Linked DNA regions of Homo sapiens. The protein of the gene in region 2 purifies or fractionates together with the protein of the main gene of each other region. This does not show direct contact. Each region holds a gene or a part of one and is shown on either strand. Other genes may lie near its edges.

What was found.
Region 1: the proteins of HACD1 (region 2) and SEMG2 purify together in Homo sapiens (affinity purification with mass spectrometry; 3 studies listed by BioGRID and IntAct, with this or other methods). This does not show direct contact.
Region 3: the proteins of HACD1 (region 2) and SEMG1 purify together in Homo sapiens (affinity purification with mass spectrometry; 3 studies listed by BioGRID and IntAct, with this or other methods). This does not show direct contact.

Annotation. Positions count from the first base shown.
Region 1 is NC_000020.11:45,216,567-45,224,372, reverse strand, and holds the start of SEMG2 (semenogelin-2 precursor), read right to left. Parts: upstream 3,001-7,806; 5' UTR 2,984-3,000; coding exon 2,908-2,983; intron 2,665-2,907; coding exon 992-2,664; 3' UTR 948-991; intron 83-947; 3' UTR 1-82. UniProt on the Homo sapiens protein: Participates in the formation of a gel matrix (sperm coagulum) entrapping the accessory gland secretions and ejaculated spermatozoa.
Region 2 is NC_000010.11:17,607,361-17,614,467, forward strand, and holds part of HACD1 (very-long-chain (3R)-3-hydroxyacyl-CoA dehydratase 1), read right to left. Parts: intron 1-7,107.
Region 3 is NC_000020.11:45,202,114-45,210,121, reverse strand, and holds SEMG1 (semenogelin-1 preproprotein), read right to left. Parts: upstream 3,090-8,008; 5' UTR 3,069-3,089; coding exon 2,993-3,068; intron 2,749-2,992; coding exon 1,436-2,748; 3' UTR 1,392-1,435; intron 522-1,391; 3' UTR 354-521; downstream 1-353. UniProt on the Homo sapiens protein: Predominant protein in semen. It participates in the formation of a gel matrix entrapping the accessory gland secretions and ejaculated spermatozoa.

The DNA.
Region 1 (7,806 bases), on a different chromosome or scaffold from region 2:
TCATCCATGGACCAAGGATCTGGGACCACATGGGAGTCTGCCTCTCAGAAACATCAAAGACTTCACTGAGGTCGGGTGACACCTAGGGAGAAAAAAGACAACCAGATATGTGAGGATAGTGGAGAGTGGGGGTGAGGATGGGAGAGCTGGGACCCCTGTCCCCTTTAGCGTCAACTGCACCAGCCCCCTGATCATTAGGACACCAGGTCACTAGTTATCAGCTGGGACCATTGTTTCTGCTGCTTACCCTCTCTTCAGGTACAGTGTTACTTATTGCAAAGGGGCATGGAAGAACCATTTCCCCAATCCAGGTTAAAATTTTCCTCTCCTGACATTGCAAGTGTCCAGTTAGCACCTGAGATCTCTCAGCATCTCCTGCACCTCCATTTCCACTTCCTTTTTCACAATCTGAACAGGAATCCTTCTTTCTACTCATATCTTTCCTATATTCAGAGAGAGTGGACTGCTAGTCTTTGGGCTTGTGGTCTCTGAAGGAGCATAGATGAACTCTAACAGGGATGCAAGAACATTCATGTATGTGCAGAAAGAAAATATTAACTGCTGTAATATTTCATACTATATGAGAAAGAATTTGAGGTTTACTAATCTAAAGTATAAGAATTGACAAGAGTATACCATAAACTCATAAATATGCATATATAGTCAGTGCATGTTCAAAAAAATCTTTAGCAGGTAGGCATGTATAAAAATATTATTGAAGAATACTCAATTAAGAATAGGAATTCTAGGACCCAGTGATAGTCCAAGCAGCCTTCCCTGCCACTACCAGGTCCTCTACTCGCCAGGAAATGGTGTTCATCTTCCCACCACTTGTAATATAGCACTTCTATTGATGTGAACAATGGTTATCAGTCCTACCATGTTCCTGGAGAGTCCCCAACTTTGGGACAGGCACCTCTCCTATTTGGTAAGAAAAGCAAACTTACCTTGCTATTGGTCCAGCTTTTCAAGTGGTTGCTAAGCAACAGGGCTATGTAGATATTGGATTTCTGTCTTCATTATATTGTTGTGTCAAATGATCATCTTGGGCAACCTCATGCTCAGTAATTACAATATTATGTGACTCACTGGATTCCTGTTTGTATCTGCCTTTTTGTTCATGACTGAGTAGGTCTTGTTTGCTATCTGCAGATTGACCAGACTTTCCTTTTGCATTTTGGCCAGACCATTGATCTTGATTAGGATTTGGTGTCTGGATTTGAGACTTGCCTTCTACTAGCTTTTCAATTTGGAAAGAAATACTGCTTTGGGATACATCTTTCTGCGTGCTCTTTCCTCCATAGTTGAGTCGTCTTTCTTCTGTACTTGAAGATTGGTATGACATTTTATTTTCCTTATGGCCATGCTCTTGATCTTGACTAGGAATTGTTACCTGGTTTTGAGACTTGCCATGTATTTTCTCTTCAGTTTGGATAGAAATACTGCCTTTGGATACACCTTTCTGTACATCCTTTTCTCCACTGTTGAGACGTCTTTCTTCTGTACTCGAAGATTGGTATGATATTTTATTTTCCTTATGGCCATACTCTTGAGCTTGACTAGGAATTCTTACCTGGTTTTGAGACTTGCCATGTATTTGCTCTTCAGTTTGGATCGAAATACTGCCTTTGGATACACCTTTCTGGATGCCCTTTTCTCCACAGTTGAGATGTCTTTCTTCTGTACTTGAAGATTGGTATGATATTTTATTTTCCTTATGGCCATGCTCTTGATCTTGACTATGAATTGTTACCTGGTTTTGAGACTTGCCATGTATTTTCTCTTCAGTTTGGATAGAAATGCTGCCTTTGGATACATCTTTCTGTACACTCTTTTCTCCATGGTGAAGTTGTCTTTCTTCTGTACGTGAAGACGGGTATGATATTTTATGTGCCTTCCGGCCATGCTCTTGATCTTGACTGAGATTTTTTGTCTGGTGTTGATTCTTGTTATATACTAGGAGCTCATCTTGGGTAGTAAAAATGTCTTTGGGTCCATGTTGGAGTCTGTCTTGATGTGCAGGATGGAGTGAAGTTTGTAGTTTACTTGAATGTTCCTCTCTCACGTCAACCACATTTTGGTAATGCCCTTTATTTTGATGAGAATTTTTAGTCTCACGTTGTTGTTTGTTAACTACTAGTTCTTCAGTTTGGAGAACATAACTGCTTTGGGATCCACCTTGTGTTCTACCTTTTTGTGCACCAGAGGCTGAAGCTTGTTCTTTACTTAGTCCATGAACCCATAGCCTTTTTTCTGTGTTTGAACATTGACTGGATAATCCCTTTCCAGATGGGCTATTCCCCTGATCTTGAGAAGGATTTTGTGTCCCATGATGAGCTTGGCCTCCTTTATGATGTATAACTATCATGTGAAAATGACCTTTTGATTTATCATGGTCTCTGCCTTCTTGTTTATAATTGAGCAGTTGTTGACTTCCACCTAGGTGTTGTTTTGATTTTGTCGCCTTATGTAGGGCATTCAAATCATATTGCTGACTTTTTCGGGTCCAGTCATGATCATTGATGTCTACATGATATGTGTGTTGAATAGAAAAACTGCCTTTGGATTTAGTATGTTGTTGGTCTTTTTGTCCAAAATAGTGCTGGCCCTTTTGTCCATGTGGAAATTGGGAAGATCCGCTTGGCAATTGGCCTTTTGATCCACCTGGTAATTGATAATAGAAATGTATGCATTCATTATCTCCAAAGCTCTCTTGCAACTCTTACCTCCCACCTTTTCCCAACAAATTTCTGATATTTCCAAAAGCCTACAGCGTTGGGTGGAGAAAAATCAATTCTCATCAAGGAGAAGAATCTGTGCCTGAACAGGTTACTGTTTGCACCCTGAATATCCTTAGAGGCCATTTTTTTAAAGTAGCTTTCCCCAAGGCTTACCCTCTCCACTCACCTTTTTGTCCCATCACAGCTGCTTGCTTCTCCAAGATAAGGAGCAGGGAAAGGACAAAGAGGATGATGGACTTCATCTTGCTTGAAAAATCTTGTCTGAGAACTGAGCGGATCTCTTCATTTATATGTTCCTTGAGTGGGTGTGCTATGGGTGGAGCTGAAATGTCAAAAGGCACTGCCCTTTCATAGCTTATTAGTAAATGCCAGCTTCCTCACCCCTGCTCAGTGGGGGATAATGTCAAAGTCCCCAGGGACTTAGCATGGGGACATAATATCAAAGGCAATTTTTTTTACTTTCAGAATCCCCAGCAAAATTTTATCGGTCTTTGTATATCATCATGCCAGATCGCTTGCATTATACAGAAGAAATTCAGTCCGGAGTAGGAAGGAGACTAGCTTCAGGTTACAAAAGTAATTGGTGGCTGACAATGCCTTCATACTCTAAATGCGAGTTTCCTTTCTGATCCAATAACTTAAATACTAAATTTTAGGTATAACTCTATACTTTGTCTTGTTTTAAAGTAATCCTGAGACACATTCTGTTTTACTCGAGAAGGAGCAGTCATAGAAGTAGAATGATACAGAAGAGAAAGAAACTTCATGGAAGCCAAAGAAAAAAATTTCAACAAATAAATGAGGCATACCAATGTCAAATGTATCTGTGAAGTTCATCACAAAAAAGACTAACATGTGTCAAAAACTTTCTGATGTTACTCACTGCTAGTAATGTTAACGAGAGATGAATACAGTTGTGTTGGGTTGTCAGTTGAAGGATGGAGTCCAGCTGAAACCATCTCAAGAAGTCTGATTTCATGGTGGAATGAGAGGTGAGGCTGTATCTGGAGGGTGAGGTAAGCTCCAGAGATTTTTTGAAAGGATGAGAAAAATTTAACATGTTTTTATGATGATAGGAACAACTGTTGGAAAAAGAAGTAAGAATGTTGGTTTCCAAATTGGATTATTTGATGATATTTACCTAAACAAAAATGTATTTACCAAAATACATTTTTTAAATAAAAGCATTTCATACTTCTGTAATAAACTGCTGAACCCTCCAACAGGCTGTGAGGAATATTTGCCAACTTCAGTTCATTAAATAATGTATTGAGAGTGGACCTAAAGCTAAAATTTTTACCTTGGGTGGAAGCATAGGGTTTTTTTGCTTTTGTTTTGTTTTGTTGTGTTGTGTTGTTTTGTTTTGTTTTTTTGCAATTGTGAAAACTTCTTGAAAAATCCAAGGAAGGTTTTTTGTTTGTTTGTTTGTTTGTTTTGTTTTTTTTGTTTGTTTGTTTTTGAGACAGAGTCTCGCTCTGTCGCCCAGGCTGGAGTGCAGTGGCACCATCTCGGCTCACTGCAAGCTGTGCCTCCCAGGTTCATGCCATTCTCCTGCCTCAGCTTCCCAAGTAGCTGGGACTACAGGTGCCTGCCACCACGCCCGGCTAATTTTTTGTATTTTTAGTAGAGACGGGGTTTCACCGTGTTAGCCAGGATGGTCTCAATCTCCTGACCTCGTGATCCGCCCGCCTCAGCCTCCCAAACTGCTGGGATTACAGGCATGAGCCACTGCACCCGGCCAGTTTCTTTACTTTGACTGAAAAAGTCCTTGTTATGAGAAGACAACAGGAGAAGCAGCAACATTTGAACAGTGACCCTGTATGCATTCAGAACACTGTGGAGGGTAGTTCTGGAGAAAGGACGGCTTGGAAACTTATTTTCTATTATTCTCTCTTAAAATCCTAACCTTCCTGTAAGCAATGCTATATGGAAGGGGAGAGGGGAAAGGCCAACCATAGGAAAAAATGCTACTTATGCCATCAAACTTGAAGCATGTGAGCTATGTGGTTTCTCTATGAGCCATTCTGAGATCTTACCAGTTTTATCTGTTTGCCCTAAGGGCAGTAAGTATTTCCTTATGGCAGGGACCCCAAAAGAAAAGAGTAAAGTTTTCCTGAACACAAATTTATTGCTGTACCTGCTAATCACTATAATCTTCCTTACACTTCCCTTAAGGAAATACCAGGAACTGTTGTGTTCCAAGATTACCGGAACAAACAAGAGTCTGAAATATTAATCTTACTTATGGATCAAGAACAAAACTTCCAACTAATCTAGTGTCCAAAAGATACAGATAAAACAAAGGTGCACAAGATTTGCAAAAACAAAGCAGGAAAATGCAAACTAGGCACAACATGTGATTATGATACTCATATCATGATTGGATTTAATGAAATTTGAAAAAAAAGCATTTCAAAATTAAAAATAAATCTATTGATAAAGATGAAAGCAGAAATCGGTAATTTGGAAAGCATAAACATGGTATAGTGCTGCATACATCTTAGATGTGGTATCATGATTGGGAAAATATCAAATGATAAAAAATAAACAAGGAAAAAATAGTAGAATATTTTAAAGTTCACCAAGTAGGAGACAGGTCACTGAGCTTGACACAGTTTATATGCCCCTGTGGCAGCACAGTGGCTATGTGTCCACACTGAGTACCTGAGAAATAGCCCTGTAACACTCTCTCCCTCCAGAGACACATCCATGGCCTGCTCAGTGGCCCTATACTCCCAATAAGAGCTTGAGAAACAGACTCACAAGCTCCCCTGCTGGGCTTGACACCACGCTGGCCCAGCTGCCGAGAGCCCATTTCCCAAACCTGAGAAACAGCCCATGGGCCACCCCTGGTGGGCATACCCAAGCCAGCCAAGTAGTTATGTGGTCATGTCCCAGGTCTGAGAAACAGTCCTACAGATTGCCTCTGGTGGTCACACATGAAGGACAACCAAGAAGCTCCATGCCTACACCCTAGGCCTACAGAATATCTTCTTGGGCCACCCCTTACAGAAATGCTCAAAGCCTAGCCACTCAGCCATGCAGCTGTGTCAAGTGCCTGAGAAAAAGCCCTCTTTCCTCTCTCATTCCCTTCCTCTCGTAGGCCATCCAAGCAGCCTTACACCCACATCTTGGGCCTGAGAAAAAGCCCAGTAGACTGACCCTGGCAGACATGTCTTCAGACCAGTTGAGAAGCTGTACTTCCACGTCCTGAAACCAAGAAACAGCTTCACAGGCCACCCCTAGCCTGTAGTCACACTCACTGACTGAACAAACATGTGCCCATGCTTCCAGCCAGGATAACAGCACCCTGGCCCCAATACCATTGAGTCATACCTTAATTGAATTACCTACCACGTGGATGCACACACCCCTGACCTGAGAATTAGCGCTGGAACCACAGCACTGGCAAAGCCATGCCACTGTAGCAGCACACTCTCTCAACTAGGGCGCTGAGAAACTCTCAAGTGCCACAAGTGTGGATCATAGGTGAAGAAACTCTATGGAAACAATACTGCTACATACACCTGCAACAAAAACCAACAAACTCAAATGAACTAACACCTAAAGACCCATTCATAAAAATAAGTTTTCGCTTATAAAATCTACTCCATAAAATTGGAAGAGGCAACTTTTCCATCAGACGCATAAAATAATAGCAGAAAACTTCTTGCATCTTGGGAGAGAGATAGAAATCCAGGTCCAGGAAGCTATAAGAACCCTAAATAAATTCAACCTAAACGGGTTCTCTCCAAGGCACATTTTAATTGCATTGCTAAAAGTCAAAGACAAAGAAAGATTTTTAAAAGCAGCAAGAGAAAAATGTCAAGTCACATATAAGGTAACCCCCATCTGACTAACAGAGAATTTCTCGGGAGAAACCTTACAGGCCAGGAAAGAATGGCATAATATATTCAAATTACTAAAAGAGAAAACTGTCAGCTAAGAACATTACCCTCAGCAAAGCTATCCTTCAGAAATGAAGGAGAAATAAAATCGTTCAGAGAGAATAAAAATTAAGAGAGGAGGGTGGCAGAACAAGATGGTGGAATAGAAGGCTCCAATGATCCCCCCTGCCCCCACCAAGGTCACCAATTTAACAAGTATCTGCAGAGAAAGATCACCTTTATAAGAACCAAAAAATCAGGTGAGCACTCACAGTAACTGATTTTAACTTTATATCACTGAAAGAGGCGCTGAAGGGGTAGGAAAAACACTTGTATCACTGATGCCACTCCTCCTTCATCTCCCGGTTGCAGGTATGGGGCACAGAGCATTTCTGTGCATGGGGTGAGAGAAAGCACAGCAATTATCAGTTAAAAAGTGGCGGGAATGAAGTTAAAGTATAGAGTCTTTATTAGTTTTCTTTCTCTTGTTTGTTTATGGAAGCAGTGTTAAGTTGTTGTCAGTTTAAATAATGGGTTATAAGATAGTATTTGTGAAGTGTGAGTCTTCCAACTGTGTTCCTCTTAGTCAAGATTGTACGGCTATTTGGGATCCCTTGAAATTCCAAATGAACGTTAGAACCCACTTTTCCATTTCTACAAGAAAGCCATAAAATTTTTGATAAGAATTGCATTGATTCGGGCTGGGCACGGTGGCTGTAATCCTAGCACTTTGGGAGGCCAAGACGGGTGGATTGCCTGAGCTCAGAAGTTCGAGACCAGCTTGGGCAACACGGTGAAACCCCGTCTCTAGTAAAATACAAAAAATTAGCCAAGTATGACAGCGTGCGCCTGTAATCCCAGCTACTCAGGAGGCTGAGACAGGAGAATCGCTTGAGCCTGGGAGGCCGAGGTTGCAGTGAGCTGAGATCGTGCCACTGCACTCCAGCCTGGGCGACAGAGTCAGACTCCATCTCAAAAAAAAAAAAAAAAAAAGAAAAGAAAAAGAGAGAGAATTGCAGTGATTTGATTATCACTTTGGGTAGTGTGCCATCTTAACAATATTAAGTCCTCCATTTCACAAATAAAGGATCTACATCCATTTATTTAGGTCTTTACTTTCTTGGGGAAGTGTTTTGTAGCCTTTAGTGTATAAGATTTACATGTCATGGGTAATTTAT
Region 2 (7,107 bases):
ATCCTACAGCACTCATCGGAATCATGCTTTAGGTACCTTCCACAACTAAAGTATTATGATTTCATTATCTTCAATTCAAAGTCCCCATATTTCTTCTACTAAGAAAACAAAAAGTTTATTAAGATATTTTCATTCACATTTTCCATACACTTGTCTTTTTTAGGTGAACCCAAATCAGATGTCCACAAAAGATAAGTTTGAGAGGCAGTTATTAACCTACCAATCAAAGGAGTCATTTGGATGGCAAGTTTTCTACATTTTTAAACAGCATTGTATAAAAATCCATGCATCGTTAACATTATAACAAGTTCTACTGTTGCTCCATAGGTGGCAGTATTGTACCACCTAGCATAGTATCATGATCGTGCCACTCACTAAACTGTGGGAAATAAAAGAAATTGACAGGCTCAGGGATTTGAAAGGACCCATCGAAACATCTATTCTAACCTCTTGTCTGTTTTTCCTAAGTAAGGCCAGGAGCCAATTGAATCAGGGTTCACTTCCTAAGCCCTCCATCAGAAAGGGTGACAGTCAAAGAAAGTCTCTTTAAGGGTCCTATATTGAACTAGTTTTGAACTTCCTTCATCTATCGGTTTAGTAACTATAATAAAACAAACAGAAAATATTTCAAAAGCAACTGGAATTTCTGCAATTAGGATTTTTTTTTTTAGACAGATTCTCGCTCTGTCCCGCAGGCTGGAGTGAGTGGTGTGCCCATGGCTCATGGCAGCCTTGGGTTCCCAGGCTTCAGCAATCTTCCCACCTCAGCCTCTCGAGTAGCTGGGACCACAGGGGTGTACCACCATACCTGGCTCATTATTGTTCTTGCTGTTGTGGGGTTTTTTTTAGTAGAGATGGGGTCTCCCTATGTTGCCCAGGCTAATCTTGAACTCCTGGGCTCAAGCCATCTGCCTGCCTCAGTCTCCCAAAGTAATGGGATTACCGGTGTGAGCCACTGCGCCTGGCCAGACTCTCTCTTTTGTGATGCTAGCAGTTACTGATGATCATTGGCTAGATCCATTATTTCAACAATCATTGAAAAACAATATTCTAGCTTGCTATTTCCTTTGTATACCTCCTTTAGCCATTTGGAGGCTTGGACCGAAGATAGTCTTCAACTTTCATATACTCCACACTTTGTCTCCTTTTTTTTTGAAATGGAGTCTTGCTCTGTCACCCAGTCTGGTGTGATTTCAGCTCACTGCAACCTCAACCTCCCAGGTTCCAGTGATTCTCGTGCCTTAGCCTCCCAAGTGGCTGGGATTACAGGTACCTGCCACCATACCCAGCTAATTTTTGTATTTTTAGTAGAGATGGGGTTTCAACATGTTGGCCAGGCTGGTCTCGAACTCCTGACCTCAAGCGATCTGCCTGCCTCAGCCTCCCAAAGTACTGGGGTTACAGACGTGAGCCGCCACGTCTGGCCCATACTTTCATATATTGTTCATTGACACCTCTAAACTGCCTTTTCTAGATAAAAGTTATACTTTTGTTTAGCAGCCAATATGTGAGTGCTTCAACTGATTGTACACCAGCACTCATGCCAATAACGAGTCAAGCTGAAAGATTCATAAAAGAAAAAACAAACGCTTGAGAAACTGAATTTCACTAAGATTAAGACACCTGCTCTTTGAAAGGCACTGTTAAGAGAATAAAAAATCAAGCCCAAACTGGAAGAAAATATTTGCAAATCACATATCTGGTAAAGCACTTGTGTCCAGATTGTATAAAGAACTTTCAAAACCCTATAATAGGAAATCAAACAGCCCATTAAAGAAAAAAAATGTGCAAAAGGTTTTTTTTTTTTTTTTTGAGACAGAGTCTTGCTCTGTCACCCAGGCTGAAGTGCAGTGGCGCGATCTCGGCTCACTGCAAGCTCCACCTCCGGGTTCATACCATTCTCCTGCCTCAGCCTCCGTAGTAGCTGAGACTATAGGCGCCCGCCACCACGCCCGGCTAATTTGTTGTATTTTTAATAGAAATGGGGTTTCACCGTGTTAGCCAGAATGGTCTCGATCTCCTGACCTCATGATCCACTCGCCTCGCCCTCCTAAAGTGCTGGGATTACAAGTGTGAGCCACCGTGCCCAGCTAAAAATGGGCAAAAGATTTGAACAGATACCCAAGAAGATATATGATTGGCAAGTGAAGCACATGAAAAGATACTCAGTATCGTTAGCTACTAGGGAAAACAAAATCAAAATCCCAATGAGATAACAGAATGTACTTCTCGGAATGTCTAAAATTACAATGACTGACCACACCAAGGGTTGGCAAGGATGTGCACCAATGGGAAGTCCCATTCATTGCGAGAGGGAAGATAAAAGGGTATAACCACTTTGGAAACCAGTTTGGCGGTTTCATAAGAAATTACGCTTTGGGAGGCCAAGGCGGTTGGATCATTTGAGGTCAGGAGTTTGAGACCAGGCTGGCCAACCTGGTGAAACCCCGTCTCTACTAAAAATAGAAAAAAAATTAGCCAGGCATGGTGGTGCACGCCTGGAGTCCCAGCCACACAGGAAGCTGAGGCAGGAGAATCGTTTGAATCCGCAGGCAGAGGTTGCAGTGAGCCGAGGATGCACCACTGCACTCCAGCGTAGGTGGCACAGTGAGACTCCATCTCAAAAAAAAAAAAAAAAAAGAACGAAAGAAATTAAACACTTAACTATCCTATGACCCAGCCCCTCCACTCCTAGGTATTTACCCAAGCAAAACAAAAGCATATGTTCGTACATAGACATGTACATGCATGCTTATAGCTTGATTTGTAATAGCAAAAACTGAAGAGAGCCCAAATGTCCATCAACAAATGGATGGATGAACAATTTGTGGTAGGTCCATTTGCGGATCTGTCCTCAGCAACAAAATAGATTCTACGCAGCAATAAAAGATATGGCTCTTACTTAACATTCTGGGAAATGAACCTTGGGTTTCTTGTTCTATTAAATCATACTAAGTATACTGTGAAAATATCTTACTTTCTCTTTCTGCAAGAAGTGCAATTTTAGGCCAGGCGCAGTGGCTCACACCTGTAATCCCAGGATTTTGGGAGGCCAAGGTGGGTGGATTGCTTGGGCCCAGGAGTTCAAGACCAGCCTGGGCAACATGGCAAGACCTTGTTTCTACAAAAAATTTAAAAATTAGCCAGGTGTGGTGGCACGTGACTGTAGTCCCAGCTACTCGGGAGGCTGAGGTGGGAGGATCACTTGAGCCTGGGAGGCTGAGCAGTGAGCTGAGCTGGTGCTACTGCACTCCAGAGCCAGACTCTGTCTCAAAAAAAAAAAAAAGTACAATTTTAAATAAACCACTAGGAATAAAAATGAACATTTGTAAACATCCACTGTGCATCAGGCATCCTGCTAAGAACTTCATATCCATTATCTCTTTATTCCTTTATAATCTAGCTAAGTAGTTGTGCTGTTCCAACTTTACAGATGAGAAAACTAAGAGTCAGAGAGGTTAAGTAGCTTATCTGAGGTTACCCAGCTACAAAGGAATGAGACACAACCTTTAAACAACACCTTTGTGTATTGTGTACAGACTAAAATCCAAACATGTTAGCAAAGCATCTGAGGCCCAGTGCAATGCCCCAAGCTACCTGTCCGCCTTCATTTCCCACTCTACACTTCAGGTCCTCTTCTTTTTTTTTTTTTTTTTTTTTGAGACAGTCTCGCTCTGTTGCCCAGGCTGGAGTGCAGTGGCATGGTCTCGGATCACTGCAACCTCTGCCTCCCGGGTTCAAGAGATTCTCCTGCCTCAGTCTCCCGAGTAGCTGGGACTACAGGTGCACGCCACCACACCCAGCTAATTTTTTGTATTTTTAGTAGAGACAGGGTTTCACTGTGTTAGCCAGGATGGTCTCGATCTCCTGACCTCGTGATCCGCCTGCTTCAGCCTCAAGTGCTGGGATTACAGGCATGAGCCACCGCGCCCGGCCCAAGCCCTCTTCTTGATGCCTCAACAGATGTCTTGCAATTTCAGATCTCTGTCCTCTAACTCATGCTGTTTCCCCACTTATGCCTACTTAAGTCCTTCACCGCTCAGTTTAAATGCTGTGATCTCTCACAGAAAACTTTCTCTAATTCTCCCTACCTGTCTGTCCTCTGACACATCTGCTTAGCACTTATCTCATTATTTTATTGCAATTGTTGTTTATATATTAATGCCCCAGGTTACCCTGCTTCAAGGACAGGGCCTAAAGTATTTGAAGGACAATGCATTTATATATACGGGCACAAAAGTATTTGTCAGAAAGAAAGAGAGAGGGAGGGAGAGAAATGCTCACTTCCCTATTATGAGCAAGTGCCATAAAAATCCTTACATCTGGCCAGGTGTGGTGGCTCACGCCTATAATCCCAGCACTTTGGGAGGCCGAGGCAGGCAGATCACGAGGTTAGGAGATCGAGACCATCCTGGCTAACACGGTGAAACCCCGTCTCTACTAAAAATACAAAAAAATTAGCCAGGCGTGGTGGGGGGTGCCTGTAGTCCCAGCTACTCGGGAGGCTGAGGCAGGAGAATGGCATGAACCCGGGAGGCGGAGCTTGCAGTGAGCTGAGATCGCACCACTGCACTCCAGCCTGGGTGACAGAGCGAGACTCTGTCTTGAAAAAAAAAAAAATCCTTACATCTGCCAGGCATGGTAGCACTCACCTGTAATCCCAGCTACTCATGAGGCTAATGCAGGAAGTCACTTGAGCCCAGGAGTTTGACGCCAGCCTAGGCAACAAAGCTAAACTCCATCTCAAAAAAAAAAAAAAAAAAAAAAAAACCCTAAAAAATCCTTACATCCTTTAAAGGTGTAATTCTTCTTCCAGGAATTTATTACACTAAGCCACGAATTGAACAGAAACAAATAAAAGCAAAATGTCGTTAGGCGCATGATTTAATCCATTATTGTATAATTAATTCTATACACTCAAATGTAACTGTCAAAAAGTATAATTATGAAAAACAGATGAAAACCTGACAGACTATTAAGTGAAAATGGAAAAATATACAATACAGCAGATATTATAACAGCAATGCTGTAATACATTCACTCATTCATTCATTCAAATATTTATTGAGTACTTCTTGGAGTTTACACTCTAATGGAGATGACAGACAATAAGCATTGCGAATAAGTAAAATATATTGTACAATCATATGAAAGAAAGTGGGATGGAGAAAAATAAACAGGCAAGGGAGATAAGGAGTATGTGTTTCACTATTCAAATTAAGATGACCAGGTAAGGCCTCCTTGAGAATGAAGTTTTGAGTAAAAACTTGGAAGAGGGGGCCGGGCGCGGTGGCTCATGCCTGTAATCCCAGCACTTTGGGAGGGCGAGGCGGGCGGATCACGATGTCAGGAGATCAAGACCAACCTGGCCAACACGGTGAAATCCCGTATCTACTAAAAATCCAAAAAAAATTAGCCGGGCGTGGTGGCGGGCGCCAGTAGTCCCAGCTACTCAGGAGACTGAGGCAGGAGAATGGCGAGAATCCGGGAGGCGGAACTTGCAGTGAGCCGAGATCTCCCCACTGCACTCCAGCTGGGTGATAGAGCAAGACTCCGTCTCAAAAAAAAAAAAACAAAAACAAAAACAAAAAAACTTGGAAGAGGTCAAATATTCATATGAAAGATAAAAAGAAAATGAAAGTGTGTGATAGGCTGATAAAATAACAAGCTGTATTTTACATTTATGTAAAATTTTATAATATTTCTTAAATACTATTCCGTTGCTTTGCAATTTGGGGTGTGTGTGTGTGTGTGTGTGTGTGTGTGTGTGTGTGTGTGTGTGTGTGTTTTGTTTTTGAGATGGGGTCTCGCTTTGCTGCCCAGGCTGGTCTTAAACTACTGGACTCAAGCAATCCTCCTGCCTCAGTCTCCTGAGTAGCTGGGATTACAGGTGCATACCACTGTTCCCCACTTGTTTTGAAAATTATTACAAAAAAATTAATAAACACGCCAAAGTTCTGTTAACAGAGAAATAAGTTAAATGAACAAAAAGAGCCTCAACTAGTCTTCTGCTGTCCACCCTATAAAACGTGTAAGTTCTTGTCCCGATTTCAACACTACAACTTCTTCAACCTTATTTACCACTATTCCCCAACAGCACCCTCCAGTTCAATCAAGAGAATACATCAGGCTTGCATATCATGCCTATTTCCAGAATTTATATCACCTGAAATGTCTACTCTCTATGTATGCAAATCTTATTCCTTCTTCAAATCTCACCGCCTCTAGAAAGCATCTGAAGAGTCAGTTACAGAGATTATTCCATTTCAATATCCCTTATTTTTGTAAATATGACAAGGAAACTTCTCAGTAGAGGCAGAAGGAGACAAGTTTAGAACAAGCCCTGATTTGCCGGGGAAGGGTCAGAGGGACAGAATGGAGAAAGCATTTAATTCTGCACCAGGTAAGGCAGGAGACCCGGAAAACTTCAAAGAGGTAGATTTGATTAGAAGTCATGGGAATAACAGGAGAACATTATACAAAAGTGAAAAACCTGAGCACAGAAGCAGAGCGCTGTGAAAATACATGGTGCTTTGAGGGACGAGTGAGTCAGAGATATCAAATGCAAGTTGACTGGAAAGGGGAATCGGGAGCAGATTGCAAAAAGCCTTGAATGGCAGATAGCCTGAATCCCTTAGATCAGGGTGGAGGTGGCAGGGAGTCACTGAAGTCTTTAAACTGGAGCTATGCATTGATGTTCATTTTTGAAATATCAGTTGGCTTTCAAGACAGAGAGTCAACTGAAAAGAGAAAGGACAGACACCCAGTTAACACAAGGCAGATATTTCAAAATGTTCACTGGCTGGGCACGGTGGCTCACACCTGTAATCCCAGCACTTTGGGAAGCCATTGTGGGAGGATCACTTGAGAACATCCTGGGCAATATAGCAAAAACCTGTCTTTACAGAAATTATTATTATTATTGTTTTATTTTTTTGTGTGAGACAGAGTGCAGACTGGAGTGCAGTGGCACGATCTCTCAGCCTCCTGGGTTCAAGCGATTATCGTGCCTCAGCCTTCCAAGCAGCTGAGATTACAGGCCTGTGCCACCATGCCCGGCTAATTTTTGTATTTTTAATAGAGACGGGGTTTTGCCATGTTGGCTAG
Region 3 (8,008 bases), on a different chromosome or scaffold from region 2:
GATGTGCTACTGTGGAATTGATCACCAGCAGATCAGGGACTTTCCCAGGGCCTGTTGCAATACATTTTCTCTTGTCTTTCTGGGATATTTTTAGTTCCTGGGGTCTTATTAGTACCAGGGTCATGAAAGCCTTTAGTGTTGGCCTCAGGTGGTAGACATGTGACTGGTAGACTAACAGCACCCTATTTTTAGTGTTGGTTTCTATCAATATATCTTGAAATGTGGCTTTGATTACTATTCTCCCTAGTGCTTCAAAAATATCCCTTTATTTTCTTTCAAAACCACTTACATTAGAAATGCCCTCAACCCCTTGAGCCACTAGGAATCCAGAGAAAACAGGAGTCAAAAGCAGATGAAGCAGAAAATGATCTCTTTATTGGAAGTTTGAAGGCGCTTCAGGTTAGGAAAGCCTAATTCAAGGAAGCATGGGCAGGTGGTGTCATCCATGGACCAAGAATCTGAAACTACACGGGAGTCTGCATCTCAGAAACATCACAGAATTCACTGAGGTCAACTGACACCTAGAGAGAAAGAAGAGAATCAGTGATGTGAGTATAGTAAAAAGTGAAGGGTGGGGATGGTAGCTGGGCCCCCTGTCCCCTTCAGCTCCAACTGTACCAGCCCTCTACTACTAGGATACCAGGCCACTAGTTGCCAGCTGGGGCCACTGTTTCTACTGCTTGCCCTCTCTTCAAGTGCAGTGTTACTTACTGCAAAGAGGCAGGGAAGCACCATTACCCCTCTCAGGGCTTCAGTTTTCTTCTCCTGATGTTGTAAACACCCAATTGGCCCATGAGATCCCTCACCATCTCTTGTGTCTCCCTTTCCATCTTCTCTTTCACAACATGAACAAGGATCTTTCTACATATCTCTTTCCTGTATTCTGAGAGGGAGGACTGATAGTCTTTGGGCTTGTGGTCTCTGAAGGAGCATAGATGAACCCTAACAGGGATGCAAGAACATTCACTGGTGTGCAGAAAGAAAACATTAATGGCTGTAATCCTTTATACTATATAGGAAAGAAACTGAGGTTTACTAATCTAAAGTATAAGAACTGACAAGAGTATACCATAAACTTATAAATATGCATATGTAGTCAGTACCTGTTCAAAAAAACCTTTAGCAGGTAGGCATATACAAAAAAATATTATTGAAGAATATTCAATTAAGGATAGGAATTCTAGGACCTCATGATAGGCCAAACATCCTTCTGTGCCACTACCAGACCCTCTCCTCACCAGGGAATGGGGAGGCTCATCTTCCTACCACTTGTTATACAGCACTTCTATTGGTGCGAACAATGGTTATCAATCCCACAAAAGTCCTGGAGAGTCCCCAACAATTCTAAACAATGAGAGAGATATCTCCCCTATTTGCTAAAAAAAAATTACCTTGATATTGGTCCATCCTTTCACATGGTTACCGAATGGTAGGTTTATGTAAATAATGGGTTTCGGTCGTTGTTAAGATGTTGTGCCAAATGACGATCACTGTCATCTTCCTGCTCTATAATTACAATATCCAATCCCCCATGAGATCCATGTTGGTGTCTGCCTTTTTGTTCATGACTGAGTAGGTCTTGTTCTCTATTTGTAGATTGGCCAGACTCTCCTTTTGCATTTTCACCATGCCATGGCTCTTGCTTAGGATTTGGTGCCTGGATTTGAGACTTGCCTGCTACTAGCTTTTCAGTTTGGCTATAAATACTGCGTTGGGATACATCTTTCTGCACACCATTTTCTCCATAGTGGAGTCGTCTTTCTTCCGTACTTGAAGATTGGTATGATATTTTATTTGCCTTTTGGCTATGCTCTTGCTCTTGACTGGGAATTGTTATCTGTTTTTGAGACTTGCCCTGTGCTTTCTCTTCAGTTTGGCTATAAATACTGCTTTGGGATACATCTTTCTGCACACCATTTTCTCCATAGTGGAGTCGTCTTTCTTCTGTACTTGAAGATTGGTATGATATTTTATTTGCCTTTCGGCCATGCTGTTGATCTTGATTGAGATTTTTTGTCTGGTGTTGATTCTTGTTATATACTAGGAGCTCATCTTGGGTAGAAAAAATGTCTTTGGATCCATGTTGGAGTTTGTCTTGGTGCGCAGGACAGAGTGAGGTTTGTACTTTACTTGAATGTTCCTCTCTCACTTCAACCACATTTTGGTAATGCCCTTTATTTTGATGAGAATTTTTAGTCTCACGTTGTTGTTTGTTAGCTACTAGCTCTTCAGTTTGGAGAACATAACTGCTTTGGGATCCGCCTTGTTTTCTACCTTTTTGTGCACCAGAGACGGAAGTTTGTTCTTTACTTAGTCCATGAACCCACAGCCTTTCTTCTGTGTTTGAATATTGACTGGATATTCCCTTTCCAGATGGGCTATTCCCCTGATCTTGAGAAGGATTTTGTGTCCCACGATGAGCTTTGCCTCCTTTATGGTGTATAACTACCCTGTGAAAATGACCTTTTGATTTATCATGGTCTCTGCCTTCTTGTTTATTATGGAGCAGTTGTTGACTTCCACCTAGATGTCGTTGTGATTTTGTCGTCTTATGTAGGGCATTCAAATCATATTGCTGACTTTTTCGGGACTGGTCATGATCATTGGCATCTACATGATATGTGTATTGAATAGAAAAACTGCCTTTGGATTCAGTTTGTTGCTTGCCTTTTTGTCCAGAATAGTGCTGGCCCTTTTGTCCGTGTGGAAATTGGGAAAATTCACTTGGTAATCGGCCTTTTGATCCACCTGGTAATTGATAATAAGAAGGTATGCATTCATTATCTCCAAAGCTCCCTTACAACTCTTACCCCCCACTTTTCCCCCAACAAATTATTGATATTTCTAGAAAAGCTGAAGCTTTGGGTGGAGAAAATCAATTCTCTTCAAAGAGAAGAATCTGTGCCTAAACAGGTTACTGTTTGCACCCCAAATAATCTTAGATTATTAGCTGTCTGAGCAGCTTTCCCCAAGGCTTACCCTCTCCACTCACCTTTTTGTCCCATCACAGCTGCTTGCTTCTCCAAGATGAGGAGCAGGGAAAGTACAAAGATGATGTTGGGCTTCATCTTGCTTGGAAAACCTTGTCTGAGAGCTGAGCCGACCTTGTCATTTATATCTTCCTTGAGTGAGTGTGCCATGGGTGGAGCTTAAATTACAAAAGGCACTGACTTTTCTTAGCTTATCAGTAAATGCCAACTTCCTCACCCCTGCTGAGTGTGGGACAAAGTCAATGTCCCCAGCAACATAATGTCAAAGGCATTTTCTTTCTTCTGGCAGCCCCAGCAAATTTTTATCAGTCCTTTTAGATCATCATGCCAGATCACTTTAATTTTACAGAATTATAGACAAAAGTAGGAAAGAGACTGGCTTCAGGCTACAAAAGCAATTGGTTTCTGAGAATGCCTTTATATTCTAAATGTGAGTTTCCCTTCATGATGCAATAATTTAAATACTCTATTTTAGATAGAACTCCATACTTCCTTTTGTTTTAAAAATGATCTTGAGACACGTTCTATTTTACCTAAGAATGAGCAATCATAGAAGTCCAATGATATAGAAGATAATGAAACGTTATGGAATCCAAAGAAAGAAATTTTAAACAAGTAAATGGGGCACTCCAATGTCAAATATGTCTGTCAAGTTCAACACAATAAAGACTGACATGTATCCAAAGTTTTTCTTAGTTGTTGCTAGTAACTTTAATGAGAGATGAATACAATTGCATTGGGTTGTCAGTTGAAGGATGGAGACCAGCTGCAACCTTCTCAGGAAGTCTGAATTCATGGTGGAGTGAGAGCTGAGGCTGTATCTGGAGGGTGAGGTAAGTTCCAGATGTGTTTTCAAAGGATGAAAGAATTTTAATATGCTTTCATGGTGATAGGAACAACTGTTGGAAAAAAAGTAAAAATGCTGGTTTCTAGATTGGGTTCTTTTCATGAAATCTACCTAAACAGCAGAATTTTCTTTTTAATTAAGAGAAGTTTCTACTTCAGTAGTAAACAGCTGAATCCCCAAACAGGCTGTGAGAAATATTTGCCACCATCAATGAATTGAATAATGTATTGTGAGTGGACATGAAGCTAAAATTCCCACCTTTGGTAGAAGCATAGATTTTTCCAATTGTGATGACATCCTGAAAAGTCTGAAGAAACTTTCTTTACTTTGAGTCATAAAGACTTCGTTATGAGCAGACCACAGGAGAAGAAGAAAGCATCCCAACAGTGTCCCTGTGTACATTCAGAACACCTTGGAGGGTAGTGCTGGGGAAAGGATAGCTTGAAAACTTATTTTCAATTATTCTGTCTTAGAATCTTAACCTTCCTGTAGGCAATGCTCTATGGAAGGGGAAAAGAGAAAGGCCAACCACAGAAAAAAAGTGCTATGCTATCAAACATAAATCATGTGAGCTGCATGGTTTCTCTATGAGCCACTCTGAGATCTTACCAAATTTATCTGTTTGCCTCAAAGGCAGTAAGTAGTTCCTTATTGCAGAAACCCCAACAGAGTAAGGTGATATTGTTCTGAACTAAAATTGATTACTGTGTCTGCTAACCACTGTAATCTTCCTCACACTTCCCTTAAGAAAATACCAGAAACTGTTCTGTTCCAAACTTACTGATACAAAATAGAGTCTGAAATATTAATCTTACTTATGGATCAAGAACAAAACTTTCATCTCATCTAGTGTCCAAAAGATGCAGATAAAACAAAAGGGCACAATATTTGCAAAAACAAACCAGGAAAATGCAATCCAAGCAAAACATGTGATTACTATATTCATATTAGAATTGAATTCAATGAAATGTGGAAAAAAACATTTCCAAATGATAAAGGAATGTATTGATAAAGTTGAAATCAGAAATCAGTGATTTGGAAAGCATAAAAATGGTATGGTGATGCATACATCTTAGATATGGAATTATGATGGGGGAAAAGATTAAGTGATCAAATGATTTGTCCTGTTGGACAAATAAAAAATGCAAAAATATTAAAGTGCACTAAATTGGCACAAAAATCTGAAAGTTTTATACTCATAGGAAAAGAAGAAAACAGGAGGACTTAAATGTATTTTGCTCAATTCTATGGGAAATCACTTTACAACTTAGAAAAGATTCAAATATAGTTATTTTTGGGGAATGGGCAGAAAAACCTGGTAGAGTAGGACTCCCCAGAGATTATACCCTCCAAAACGTCGAATTTAATAATTATCCACATATGATAATAGTTTCTCAAAAGCTAAACAGGCCAGATGAGATATTACAGAACCTGATTATAGTATAATAATTAAAAATACACATTGAAGAGGGCACGAAAGACAATTTTGTTTCCTGTATCACCCCTAACCCAATCACAGGCAGCACAGTGCAGAGAGAGCTACTTTCTTTTGGGGGGAAGGGAATGAAGTAAGGCTTGGACTTTTTCACGGAACAAAATACTAGTCTATAATAGTAAAATTCAGCACTGGGAGGACACCCATAGTGACCCTGCTTGAATACCTGTGGCCTAAGCAGCAAGACCTGCCCCAGCAGCAGAGAGGAACACATAGTTCCTGTGAGATAGACTTGCGTTCTTACCTGTACCACTGGCAGCCAACTACAGCAGCCTTGGATTATGAATAACCAACATACGTAGGCAGGTATCAGTGAGGAGGAGTTGGGAATGCATTCCATCATTGTGCCAGCCTCTGCAGCCATGGGTTACAGCCTGGTGCAGAACTGGCCATGGTGGTCCTGGGTTTATGACATCTCCTTGTGCTGCAATGACTGAAACAGTCACAGGCTTACAAACCTAGAACAGATGATCTGCCTAGAATTTCCGGACAGAGTTGAGGGACATTCTCAGACAAAGCCAAACTGGAGTAAGTACCTACCTTAAATTCAATATCTGCATTCAAGTACCTACCTGCAATTCAATAAGTACCTACTTCTTCAATGTGCAGACATCAATGCACAATCACAAGGATCAAGAACAATCGGGGAAAACTGATGACACCAAATTAACAAAATAAGGTACCAAATGAACAAAATAAGATACCATTGATTGGCCCCAAAGACATGGAGATGTATGACCTGCCTGAAAGAGAATTTAAAATGGCTGTTCTAAGGAAGCTCAAAGAACTTTAATAAAATACAGATAAATAATTAAATGAAATGATGAAAACAATAAGTGACCAGAAAGAGAGATGTAACAAAGGGTAAAAATGATAACATTTAATATCTAATGTTAATATAGGAGCTGAAGAATGCAATGAATAAAATGAAAAGTGTGAAAAGTGCAATAGAGTGCATTAACACCAGAAATGATCAAGCAGAAGGAATAATCTGTGAGCTTGAATACAGGTTATTTGACAATATATACTCAGAAAAGGAAAAAAGAAAAAAGAATAGAATGAAGGAAACTTATGAGATGTATGGAATAGCATTAAGTGAGCAAAGGGACAATTTACTGGCATTCAAGAGAAGTTAGAGAAAGATAAATGGAAAAGTAAAGAAAGCTTATTAAATAAGTAATAACAGAAAACTTTCCAAATCTGAGGAGTTCATATATATATATATATATATATATATATATATATATATACACACACACACACACACACATATATACACCCATATATATACATATACATATATACATATATATTATATATATATGTATGTGTCTATTATATATATATATATGTAGTCAAAGTGCAGGATGGTCAACAGTCACCAATCACATTCAATTCAAAAAAGACTAGACATATAATAATTAAACTGTGAAAGATCAAAGACAAATAAATGATACTGAAGCAGCAAAAGAAAAGAAGCAAATAAAATGCAAAACAGTTCCAATACACTTCACATCAGACCTTTTTTTTCTTTTTCAACTGTTATTTTACATTCAGGGGCCAAGTGTGCAAATTTGTTACCTGGGTATATTGCATGATGCTGAAGCTCGGGGTATGAATTTTCCTGTCATTCTGATACTGACTATAATACCCAACATTTAGTTTTTCAACCCTTGTCCCCTTCCCTCCCTCCTTCTCTCCTCTAGTAGTCTTCAGTGTGTATTATTTCCATCTTTATGTTCATGAGTATCTGACATTTAGCTCCCCTCTATAACTGAGAACATGTGGTATATAGTTTTCTCTTCCTGCATTAATCTACTTAGGATAATGGCCTCCCACTGCATCCATGTTGCTGCAAATGCATGATTTTATTTATTTTTTATGACTGTGTAGTATTCCATGGTGTATATACACCATATTTTCTTTATCCAATCCACCATTGATGGGCACCTAAGTCGATTCCATGTTTTTGCTAGTATGAATAGTGCTGCAATCAAATCATATTTCTCAAAGGGAACATTAAAGATCAGAGGAGAGTGGAATAATATTATCAAAGTAATGAAAAAAAAGAAAACCATCCAAGCATACTATACTCAGCAAAGCTGTTCTTCAGAAATGACAGAGAAATGAAAACTTTCCTAGACATACAAAGGTGAGGAAGTATGTCACCATCAGACCTATTTTACAAGAAATGCTAAAGGAGTTCTTCAAGGTGAAAGAAAAGGATGCTAATGAGTAATACAAAATAATCTAAAAGTGTAGAACTCACTAATAAAATTAATTACACAGTCAAAATTCAGAATACTGTGATACTATAATGGTGATGTATAAATCACTTCTATCTTTAGTATGAAGGCTAAAAGATAAAACTTGAAATTAATAATAACTACAATAAATTGTTAATGTATATGGCACATAAAAGCTGTTAATTGTGACATGAAAATATCAAAATGCGGGGAGGGAAGTGGTGGTAAGGTGTAGTTTTATGTTTTGTAATCAAACAAATTATTATCAGGTTAAAATCACTTGTGATAGCTACAGGATTTTTTTTAAAGGCCTCATGTTAGCCACAAAGACAACATTTTTAATAGACGCCCTAAAAATAAAAAATAAGTATCAAAATATACTACTAGAGAAACTAACTTAATCATAGTGGAAGGCAATAAGAGAGAAAGA